Linked DNA regions of Homo sapiens. The protein of the gene in region 3 purifies or fractionates together with the protein of the main gene of each other region. This does not show direct contact. Each region holds a gene or a part of one and is shown on either strand. Other genes may lie near its edges.

Region 1 (3,652 bases), on a different chromosome or scaffold from region 3:
AGTGGAGTATATTTATCCATAAAGAATGAAATAGGCTAAGTGAAATAAGCCTGGCATGAAAGGATACATATTGTATGGTTCCACTTACATGAAATATCTAGATTAGGAAGATTCTTAGGGACAGATAGTAGAGTAGAGGTTACCAGAGCCTTGGGGAAAAAGGCGGTGGGATTATTGTGTAACGCAGGGGTCCCTGCGTCAGCACCGGTACGTTAGGAATTGGGCCGTACAGCAGGAGGTGAGCCACAGGCAAGCGAGCATTACCACCTGAGCTCTGCCTCCTGTCAGATTAGCAGTGGCATTAGATTCTCATAGGAGCTTGAACACTATTGTGAACTGCGCATGTGAAGGATCTAGGTTGCATGCTCCTTATGAGAATCTAATGCCTAATGAATGATCTGAGGTGAAACGGTTTCATCTTGAAACCATCCACCATCTGCCCCTTCCCCCAGCCCCCGCCCTGCACCTCCACCCCATTATCCGTGGAAAATTTGTCTTCCTCAAAAATGGTTTCTGATGCCAAAAAGGTTGGGAACCGCTGGTTTAATGGATTCAGAGTTTCTGTTTGGGATGACAAAAAAAATTCTAAAATGGATAGTGGTGGTGATCGCAGAACATTGTGAATATACTTATAGGATGCCACTGAATTGTACACTTAAAAATGATTAAAATGGTCTTTTTATGTTAGATATATTTTACCACAATCAAAAAATTAAAATAACCAACCAAACAACAACAAAATAGATTTACTCAGATAATACCTGTTCAGTGTCTTTTCCTCACAGATATCTTCTCATTTGTTACTGAAGTATCCGTCTCAGAATTGTGTGGGTGCTTATTAGATGTTTAAGATTGTTTACCTGTGGGTTTGTATTGCCTTTGAATTACAAATGGTGTGGGGTTTTTTACATTATTTTTGTGACAGAAATAGTTAATGCATCTCCTTTGTTTTGCAGTTACTTCGAGAGCTTAAGCATCCAAACGTCATTTCTCTTCAAAAGGTGTTTCTGTCTCATGCTGATAGGAAGGTGTGGCTTCTGTTTGACTATGCTGAACATGACCTCTGGGTAAGGTGAATTGCTGGCAGACATGAGCAAACAGTCAGGGATTGTTAAGAGTAACTAAAAACAGTTAGGTGTTCTGCTTATTATGAGACTTATGTTTTTAAAATAAAAGTAACCTCATAGAGTGTGGTTGGTGGCATGACGAAGGCTAGAGTATTTGACTTTGTATTATTACTTTTCAATATTGTCACTTTGATCTTTTAACAGATACTAAAGAAAACAATAGAATCTAAAGAGTGTTCAACAACTATTCAATATTGCTTCATATAGTTTTTTGATAAAATAAAAAGTAACTAATATATATAAAATTTTGCTCTAAAATAGAAAAGTAGCATATTTCCTTTTATTTCGTTGTATAAAGGGAACATAAAATGAGAAGGTGGTATCCTCATGTAGGAGGACGAATATGCTATCTTTGGAGAGATCTAATAGTTCTACCATTATTTGTCGTATAGCATTAAGCAAGTCTTTTAATGGCTTTGAAGCTGTAGTTTACCCCATCTGTAAAATGTAATACTTTCTTGCCTTTTTTAACAACGTTTTTCTGAGGAACAATCTTGTATTTGAAAAGTTTTATAAATATACAAATGTAGGAAACTGTTATTAATTATTAACTATTCACAATTGAATTTAATATCCTAATTCTTATTTTCAGTGGCAGTAGTTCAATACAGTATAGTCATGCGCCATATAATGTTATTGTCAACTAGGGACTGCATATATGATAGTGGTCTCCTAAGATTATAGTACCATATTGTTACTGTACCTTTTCTATGTTTACATATGTTTAGATAACACACTTATTTACTATTGTGTCACAATTGCCTTCCTTATTCAGTACAGTAACATGTACAGGTTTGTAGCCTAGGAGCAGGAGGCTATAACATATAGCCTAGGTTTGTAGTAGAGTCTATCATCTAGGTTTGTGTAAGTACAGTCTGTGATGTTTACACAACTGCAAAATTGCCTAACGACACATTTTTCAGAATGTATCCCTTCATTAAGTGATGCATGACTGTATTGTACTTACTTGAATTGGGCATAATCTTGCATTGGAGGAATTTTTTGTGGATGAGAGCTCTATTACAAAATAAGATTCGTGTGAAAATAAATTTTAATATCTCTTGGGACTTTTAGTTCTTTGTTTTCTGACCTATGATAAGAATAGTTTTAGGCCAAGTGTAGTGGGTCACACCTGTAGTCCCAACACTTTGGGAGGCCAAGACAGGAAGATCACTTGAGCCAAAGTGTTTGAGACAAGCCTGGGTCACATGGCAAGACCCTGTCTCTGCAAAAAATAAAAAAAATTAGCTGGGCTCAGTGGCACATGCTGTGGTCCCAGCTGTTCATGGGGCTGAAGCTCAGGAAGTCGAGGCTGCAGTGGGTCCTGTTTGCACTGTTGCACTCCAGCCCGGCTAATTTTTGTATTTTTAGTAGAGACAGGGTTTCACCATGTTGGCCAGGCTGGTCTCTTAACTCCTGATGTCAGGTGATCTGCCCACCTCGGCCTCCCAAAGTGCTGAGATTACAGGCCTGAGCCACTGAGCCCAGCCAGTTTATTAGTTTATCTAATGCATTGCAGAAAATGATGCTATATTGAAAAAAATTACTGTAAAATAAGAACTTAATTTTATCTTGTCTGAGTAGCTGAAATACAAACACCAGCCTCAGTATTTTGCAGTTTACTAAGCAGATTATTTTTTAAATTGGTATTTGAGGAACTCTAAGGTAACTATAAAATTTGCTCTTTTATTAAATATAACATTTATATATTTTTTAAAAATCTGAAACGTTACCTTGCAGATAAAACTTTGAGATATATATATAGAAAATCTATAATAGGATAGCCAAAGTAATTTTGAAACATAGTAACAAAATTGACATTCTTATCAATCTGTATAGAGAACATCTGTTAATACAGATTATAGTTTAAGAAACAAGTAAACTAAACATCTAACATTACCTTGTGTTAATTCATTAAGAATTACTATACTCCTGTGAACTGCTTTTTAAATGATATTTAATAATGTCTTTAAACATTGTATTGATTTGCATACTAATCTATATTTACTAAATTAGCATGGCTATGCTTTTTATTATGTATACATGAAATTTTCTCTCTTTTATGAAACTCTTTCCAAAGTTCATGCTGGTTATTAATTTCTTCTTTTTTTTTAAATCTTTGGTTCTTCTGTTCTTCTATTTTAAAAGAAATCTAATCAGATCAACCCTGTTAAATCAGCGTGGCCAGTATTAAATTGAACACTCACTATGCTGAGCCTCATAAGAAATAAAGTCATATAATTTAAACTTAAGGCATTTTCCAGGCTGGTTTATAAACAAGATTTGTGATAAACCACAGTAGAGCATAGAAGATAGTATAATATTTCACTCAATGTGATTTCTAGCTGCTAGTTTGTAATATTTAATTTTACATGTAGGTACAATGATTATACTTCAGCAAATTTTATTGTGGGTAATATTGTACAGTGCATATAACTAGTTCATTAGCTTTATCATCATCTTAATAATATTTAAGCCAAATAAATATTTTTAATGTTCATTTTCATAAAAAACAAATGATAATT
Region 2 (3,652 bases), on a different chromosome or scaffold from region 3:
ATTATGTTAATTAAATGTTGATAAATACATTTTATCTATAAGACTGTACACTATCAGTGTATAAATTGATAAAATATTAAGAGAAATTATTATAAGGGTTTCAACATAAGATAGCTATTGCTATTTTTGTCTTTTATCATTTACTAACTTAGCCAGCCTTTTAAAAAAAATCTTACAAAAGGTTTGGTGGGTGTAACGGTAGTGTGTTCATACTGCGCAGTTCTTTTTCAGATGTCTAGTATTAAGAACACATTAAATCAAGGTTGGTTTTCTTGGACTCCTATGGAAATTTTCATTTCTATTCATTATTGAACATGTATTTAAACACCAATTCCTGGAGCTCTCTCTTGTCACTTGTGACTTGTAATTTACTGACAGTGATTGAGATGATTGTCAATTTGTTGAGTAACAAAATATGTCATTGTTATAAAAGTACTTATATTATGACTTGGCAGAGGAACTGGGGAGTGATGAAGATGATATTGATGAAGATGGGCAAGAATATTTGGAGATTCTGGCTAAGCAGGCTGGTGAAGATGGAGATGATGAAGATTGGGAAGAAGATGATGCTGAAGAGACTGCTCTGGAAGGCTATTCCACAATCATTGATGATGAAGATAACCCTGTTGATGAGTATCAGATATTTAAAGCTATCTTTCAAAGTAAGTCAACTTGTTACATGTGGATCCATTTCATTGAACAAATCTGTTGTAGTTTCTGCCTGCCCTTTAAAGGAAGAGTTTGGAGGATATCAAACCCAGACTAGAAAAGGCTGGTTAGGCAAAGTAACCAAAATTATTTCTAAGGTTGCCATAGTTTCTGAGTATTCTTTATTCATCCTGTTATTTTACATTTAGATTGTAATTTTGGAAGATTATAGGAAAATAATGTAGTTCAAAAAAGTATACAGTGACAGTGCCTCTTTGCTACTTCTGATTCCCAATCTCCCAGCTTTCCTCAGAAGTAACCACTCTTACGTGTATACCTGTTTGTTGTATGTTATTATTTGTGTGTATCCTTTTTTCCTGCCCAAACCTATACTTAACGTGTTAAGAGTATATTAGCATTTATGGCATATGATCTTATAATTCTTTTTTTCCTATATTCTGTGATGTGTTAACTAATTTAATCTATTATTACTAAATTAGCACTTTCGGCATAATCAAATTTTTAGCTTTAAACAACTAATTTAACCTTGAGATTTTTGAATTATATATGCCTAGGATTCTGGAGCCACGTACACTGTTAAATATTCCAAGAAAAGTCCACTGTTCCTATAATGTGTCATTGTATGTGGCTCCAGAATACTAGGTTCTGGTTGGTTTTTACCATCATTTACTTGGATTTCAACAAGGTATAGCATTTGTGTTTTACCATCCACGTTAAGAAATTAAATTTCCCCTGTATTTGAAACATCTTTTCCTCTCAGAGTTAATTGCTGTTATATATCATTTCCTATGCACTGGGAACTGATGAATATATTTTTTGATAGAATACATTATCTGATAACCAAGGATTTGAGTCTTCTAAGCCCATGACAAGGCAGTTTTGATGCAAGGTTACAGAAGCACAAAGTGCTGGTTTCTGAGCTACATGGCAGCAAGAACTGATTGAGGTGCCAAACTTGTTGTTTCTGTGCCTTGTACTTTGTAGACAGACACCACATGTCAGTCCCTAAAGAATGGTTCCTAACACGGGGCCCATGTACCACAGTAGCCTTGATGATTTTCAAGTTGCTTTAGCTCTGAATCTTTTAAGATGGTTGGGTTAGCTTTATTCCTGAAGTCTCCCTGGTTTGTTACTTACTATATAAGAACTAGTTAGGCTGAGTCCTTATTTGCTGGAGAGATGGATCGTAAGAATGATTAGAGTTTTTGGAGCCATAAAGATAAGCTGTAGTTAATTTTTATTCCTATATCTGTTGTTTCACAAATATGGTAATTTTAAAAATTATTGGGAGAATATAAAATAGATCAGAATTTCAGTATTGCCTCGGGATGGAGTAGGAGGAATAGTGTAGAACGGAGCTACCAAGCCTCTCTTATTCATGTTGTTTTTCCCTTGTTTTTATTTTTTGATAGCTATTCAAAATCGTAATCCTGTGTGGTATCAGGCACTGACTCACGGTCTTAATGAAGAACAAAGAAAACAGTTACAGGACATAGCAACTCTGGCTGATCAAAGAAGAGCAGCCCATGGTATGTTAATTAACTGTAACTCCTCTTTAATTAGTGACTTTTATAGGTTTAAAATTTTATATCGTTTAATTTTATATCATTAAATTTTATCATTTAAGATGATATAAAAGGTATAGTTGTTGCAGGTGATAGGAATTAACTCTAATCTGAGGGATTTAATTCAAGATAACTTAATTTTGGCTTTGGCTACAGTTGGCTTTTTTCGTTTTTTTTTGTTTGTTTGTTTGTTTGTTTGAGATGGCGTCTTGCTCTGTCGCCCAGGCTGTAGTGCAGTGATGCGATGTCAGCTCACTGCAAGCTCTACCTCCCGGGTTCATGCCATTCTCCTGCCTCAGCCTCCCAAGTAGCTGGGACTACAGGCACCTGCCACTACACCTGGCTAATTTTTTGTATTTTTAGTAGAGACAGGGTTTCACTGTGTTAGCCAGGATGGTATCAATCTCCTGACCTCATGACCCGCCCGCCTCGGCCTCCCAAACTGCTGAGATTACAGGCGTGAGCCACCACACCCAGCCCCAGTTTGTTTATTTTTAAGTATAATTGGGCCAGGTGTGGTGGCTCATGCCTGTAATTCCAGCACTTTGGGAGGCCACGGTGGGTGGATTGCCTGAGCTCGGGAGTTTGAGACCAGCCTGGGCAACATGACCAAACTCTGTCTCTACTAAAATACAAAAAACTAGCCAGGCATGGTGGCACATGCCTATATTCCCAGCTACTCAGGAGGCTGAGGCAGGAAAATTGCTTGAACCTAGGAGGCGGAGGTTGCAGTGAGTTGAGATTGCACTACTGTTCTCCATCCTGGGCAACAGAACGAGACTCCATCTCCAAAAAAACAGAAACAAAAAAAACTAGAGAACACAGCCAGACATGGTGGCGCATGCTTGTAATCCCAGCTACTTGGGAGGCTGGGGCAGGCAAGTCCTTGAACCCAGGAGGCAGAGGTTGCAGTGAGCCGACATCACGCCATTGCACTGCAGCCTGGGTGACAAGAGCAAAAGTCTGTCTCAAAAAAACAAAAAAAAGTACAGTTGAAGACTACTTTCAGTTTGCAATAACTTTAGCTCATGGTGATGGTTAGATAGTAGAAAGTTCTGTTAAAAATGTAAACACCTAAGCCGGGCGCAGTGGCTCACACCTGTAATCCCAGCACTTTGGGAGGCTGAGGCGGGTGGATCACCTGAGGTTTAGAGTTCGAGACCAGCCTGACCAACGTGGAGAAACCCCATCTCTACTGCAAATACAAAATTAGCCAGGCGTGGTAGGCATGCCTGTAATCCCAGCTACTCGGGAGGCTGAGGCAGGAGAATTGCTTGAACCCGGGAGGTGGAGGTTGCGGTGAGCCGAGGTCGCGCCATTGCACTCCAGCCTGGGCAACAAGAGCGAAACTCCGTCTCAAAAAAAAAAAAAAAAAATTTAAACACTTGGCCAGGCGTGGTGGCTCATGCCTGTAATCC
Region 3 (4,192 bases):
TAAGACATGAGCAAGGGCAGCCCAACTTGGGTAAGCTGTGGCTCAGAATCCCACACTCGCCAAGTGACTCTGCCCAGTATAAACTGGGCGATTAGCCGAGCAGCTCCCCCTAACACACACACACTTACACACACACACACTCACACACACACCCCTCCCCAAGAGCAGACTATGTAGCCAGGGCCCCACCCTGAGAGCCGTGGGAAGGCTGTGGCCCCCGCTGGTAAAACTGGGCTAATGACAGCAGGGGAACCGGCGGGGCCAGGGGGGTGCTGGGGTAATTAGGGCTCGGCCTGGCGCTAGGAGATCCTGAGATGAAAGGTGCTCTGGCGTCACTGGGTTGGTTTTATGTCCATGAATGCAGGTGTGTGGTGTGTGTATGTGTGTGCTGGGGGTGGGGCTGGCATGGTGGAGACCTCTCCTTTGGGTTGGGTTAGGGGGTCCATTTGTATGCAGCCCACCGTCTTCCTTAGATTGACTCTGGTACCATTTGGATTTTTGTGGGAGCAAACATGGGGGGAAATACCACCACCCGGGAGCTAGGAATTGAGGGGGTATGGCAGATCTTGTCCCCTCCCCGAGCTCAGGAGAGGGAGCAGATTGTTGGGGGAAATGGCTGGTGACAGAGAATAGAAAGAGCCTATATGGAGAAGGGTGACGTTGGAAAAGGGAGGCAGTGGATCGGTATTGATGTTAGAAATGAGAGGGGAGGGAGGTAACAGGGAATGAACCCCCACAAGGATGAAAAACGTAAGATGATTGAAGTTAAAAGGACATCAGGGGTCACCTGCCCAGCCCTCGCAGCTGAAGCTTGAGGAAGCTCTGCCCCCGACAGCAGTGGCGATTTGTCAAGGTCACACAGTGAGTTACCGGCGGAGAAGGGACCCGAACTCCCAAACAAACTACACCTGCAAGCGTTTGGTGTTTAGACTTTCTCCCCGATGTATAAGGTGCAGGCTGCTCGTCGATACTTCCTCCTCCACCCTCACGGTGCACACCCGAAAACCCCCCAATTCTCCCGGCAAGCAAAGGCTATTTTTTAATGACATCTTTTCCAAAATATGTCACCAAGTACCCACTCCTGCGGGAGCCGCCCGGGCTGGGGAGGGCGAGTCCGAGCGGGGCGGGGCAGAGGCGGCCGAGGGGCGGCCGGACCTCTGGCGGGGGTCCCGGGGCGCGGCAGGGGGCGGGGGGCGGGGGCGGGCGGCGGCGAGGCGGCCTGCAGGGAGCAGCCGCGAGCCGGCCGGGCGCGCCGAGCCCGAGCCCCAGCCGGAGCGGGGCGGGGGAGGGAGGAGCCAGAGCGGCCGCCGCCTCTGCCGGAGGAGCCGCGGGGCCGCCACACTCGCCCCCCGCCCCCCCCGCGCTCACTCGCACTCACACCCGGGCGCAGGAGGCGGGCGGCCCGGGCCCCACCGGCCCCCCATGGACGCCCCCAGCACGGGGCGCTGAGACCCCCGCGTCGCTGCCCAGCCCGGTCCGGCGCGCCACGCCGAGGTAAGGAGGAGGGAGCGAGGGGGCATTAATATGCAAATGCCTTGCGATTGATTATGCAAAGCCGCGGGGCTCCGTGGCCAGCTCCCAGGCGGGCTAGGGGCGCCCAGGGGGTGCCTGCTGCCAGCCTCAGCCTTTCCTGGCGCCCCAGTGACCCTGTCACGAGCCCGGGAGCTTGCAACTGACGCCCTGGGGAAGGGAGGTGTTGCTAGGAGGTCGCTGGGCCCCGGGGTTCGCAGGCGGAGATGGCGTCCGAGCCTCCCCCTGGAGGGCCCGCCCGGCCTCTGTCCGGCCAGTCTGCTGCGCATTCCCGGGCCGGGCCCCGTTGCCGGCCGCCGGAGCTCCCCCGCCCGCCGCGCCGCGGTTTGTTTACGGTGCGCCGGAGGCCTGCCCCCCCAGCCCCCACCCCTAGCCTCTGAGGCCCGAGTGGCCTTTGCAAAGCTGCCTCCAGCTGCGGAGGGCAGTATGAGTGCGGTGGCGCGGGTGGGCTTGCACGGGTCCGGGGAGAGGGAAGTTCCCCCGCCTCACCCGCCTCCCGGTTGAGCATGGCTGTCTGGTTGCAACACTGCTAATTGCAAAAACGCGGTTGTTGGGGGGGAATGTGTGTGTGGAAGGGGTGTACTTGGTGGTGCCTAGATGATTAGGAGAGTTGCTGGCTGGGGAGGAGAGGGAGAAATGGACCTGTGTGTGTGTACCCCACCTTGTTTCCCTCCCCTTGCAACGTGTCTCTGGTGCCCCTTCTCCATCTGGGGCCCTCCCTTGTCCAGCGTGAAAGAAAGGCCTGGGGGGATGACAGGGGCAATTGAAAGAACCACCGTTCCAGGGGTGGGGGTGGGGGACACAGAAGGAAAGCCAGTGAGGTGGGAGCCTGCCCCTCAGTGCTGGCTTTGGCTCCAGGAGGGGGAGGGGATGAAGGGGGCTGTTGTCCAAAATGAGGGGGGAAGCAAAAGTGACACGCAGACACAGAGATATGTCCACACAGACAGCCACATGCACATCCAGGGACACCCAGGCAGACTCAAGGACAGGAGCTACTGGACACACCCACATGGGGACAAGGGAAGAGACAGGCTGCTGCTGCACCGTGGAGCTCTGAGGGGTGGGATATACCCATGGGAGACCAAGAGCATGGGGACCGATCCATGCACATACCCACGCACAGGGTCACACGTAGATGCTGTCACACACTGGGGCAAGGAGGAGTTGCTGTCACCCACACATAAAAAGTCACTGTCACATGCATGCATGCACACAGAGCAATTGCACACAGCAGCACAATTACAAAAGACCCTGTCACTCACAGGCACACACGTGCTCGCATGAGCCCAGTCACACAGACATCATTGCTTGCCGTGACAGTCGCTGTCACTCAGTCAGATGCAAACACAGTTACACACCAACACATGTATACACAACTTAGCAACAAGTATTTTCCTGGACTCTTTACTGTGGAGCTCTGAGGTTCTGTAGGCAACAAAACCCTTGCTCCCAAGAATATTAAATTTGGCTGTATGAAAAAGTGTTCCTGCGTAATGGTGTAAAGCATGCATTCCCAATGACATGTTCTTGGTCTCTATCGCTTGAGATACCACCCTACTAGACAGTGAGCTCTTGGAGACCTGGGAGAATCACTTAAAGAGCTCTGGATCCCACGCAGAGCCTAGCACAAGGGCTGCTCTGTAAATACTTGTTAGTTGATTGACTGTGGAACCTGCAGACACAGGTGCACTCATTTGCACATGGTCCCCTGAACTCAGGTGCAGAATGAGTTCACAAGGCCCAGGTCCCCACAGTTGCAGGTCCACACCAACAGTCGTGTCCACACAACCCCAGATACACACAACTGCAGCCTGTGCAGCCGAGCACACACTTAGATGCACACAATCACAAATTTTTCCCCTTCAGCTTCCTCCTCCCCTTTTTCCTCTAGGCTCAGCCACTGTGCGGGAATGGGCTGTTTTTTTTTTCTTTCTTTCTTTTAGAGGGACAGAGAAACAAGAGCAAAGACAGTGGGTTCAGGGGGGTTCCAGAGGGCCGAGTCATGGGCTCAAAGCAGTGTCCAGTGACTTCTAGAAGCTAGGATTCTCTTGACTGTTGGGGAAGGGGAGAGCTGCTCTCCTCCCTACCCTAAAAGCTCAGGGGTGTCTAACTGCCCCTGCTCTGAGTCATTTGCCTGGGTCTTTCCTGGGAACAGTCAGTCACTTCCAGCTGAGTTCCTGCGCCCCACCTTGAGTCTGGCCCTTTTTCCCACCTGTACCCTCCTGTCCAAACTTGGAAGCTTTCCTTAAGAGGCCATCGGCTGGCGAGTGTCTGTGTGAGTGATATGTACTTTTGACTTGGAATTTCTCTCTAACTCTGTCTCTCTGTTGCTCTGTCTTGCAGTGTCTGATTCTCCCTCTCTCTCTCCTTGTTTCTCTGCCAGTCTGTAACTCTCTCTCACCCTGTTGCTACCCCCGATCTACCCCTGTCCTTGTCTCAGAGCTGGGGACTGGCAGCAATGTTCTTCATACTTTTCCAGTTGTTAATACCCAAGCTCCGCCCCTCTGCCCCCCCTGCGCAGCCTCTGGGGTCAGCTTGAGGTTGGGGTGGGGGGCGGGGGGCTCAGCTGGCTGCTCAGGACTTCCTGCACTTCCTTAGTGCCGCAGCTGTGGCCAGCAAGTTTTAGGGGCTGGGAATGGGGGAAGGGGGGGGGGGTCAGCCA

What was found.
Region 1: the proteins of THRA (region 3) and CDK8 purify together in Homo sapiens (affinity purification with western blotting, with the first as the bait; one study listed by BioGRID). This does not show direct contact.
Region 2: the proteins of THRA (region 3) and IPO7 purify together in Homo sapiens (affinity purification with western blotting, with the first as the bait; one study listed by BioGRID). This does not show direct contact.

Annotation. Positions count from the first base shown.
Region 1 is NC_000013.11:26,348,116-26,351,767, forward strand, and holds part of CDK8 (cyclin-dependent kinase 8), read left to right. Parts: intron 1-956; coding exon 957-1,067; intron 1,068-3,652.
Region 2 is NC_000011.10:9,440,000-9,443,651, forward strand, and holds part of IPO7 (importin-7), read left to right. Parts: intron 1-455; coding exon 456-662; intron 663-2,081; coding exon 2,082-2,198; intron 2,199-3,652. UniProt on the Homo sapiens protein: Functions in nuclear protein import, either by acting as autonomous nuclear transport receptor or as an adapter-like protein in association with the importin-beta subunit KPNB1.
Region 3 is NC_000017.11:40,061,599-40,065,790, forward strand, and holds the start of THRA (thyroid hormone receptor alpha), read left to right. Parts: upstream 1-1,366; 5' UTR 1,367-1,494; intron 1,495-4,192.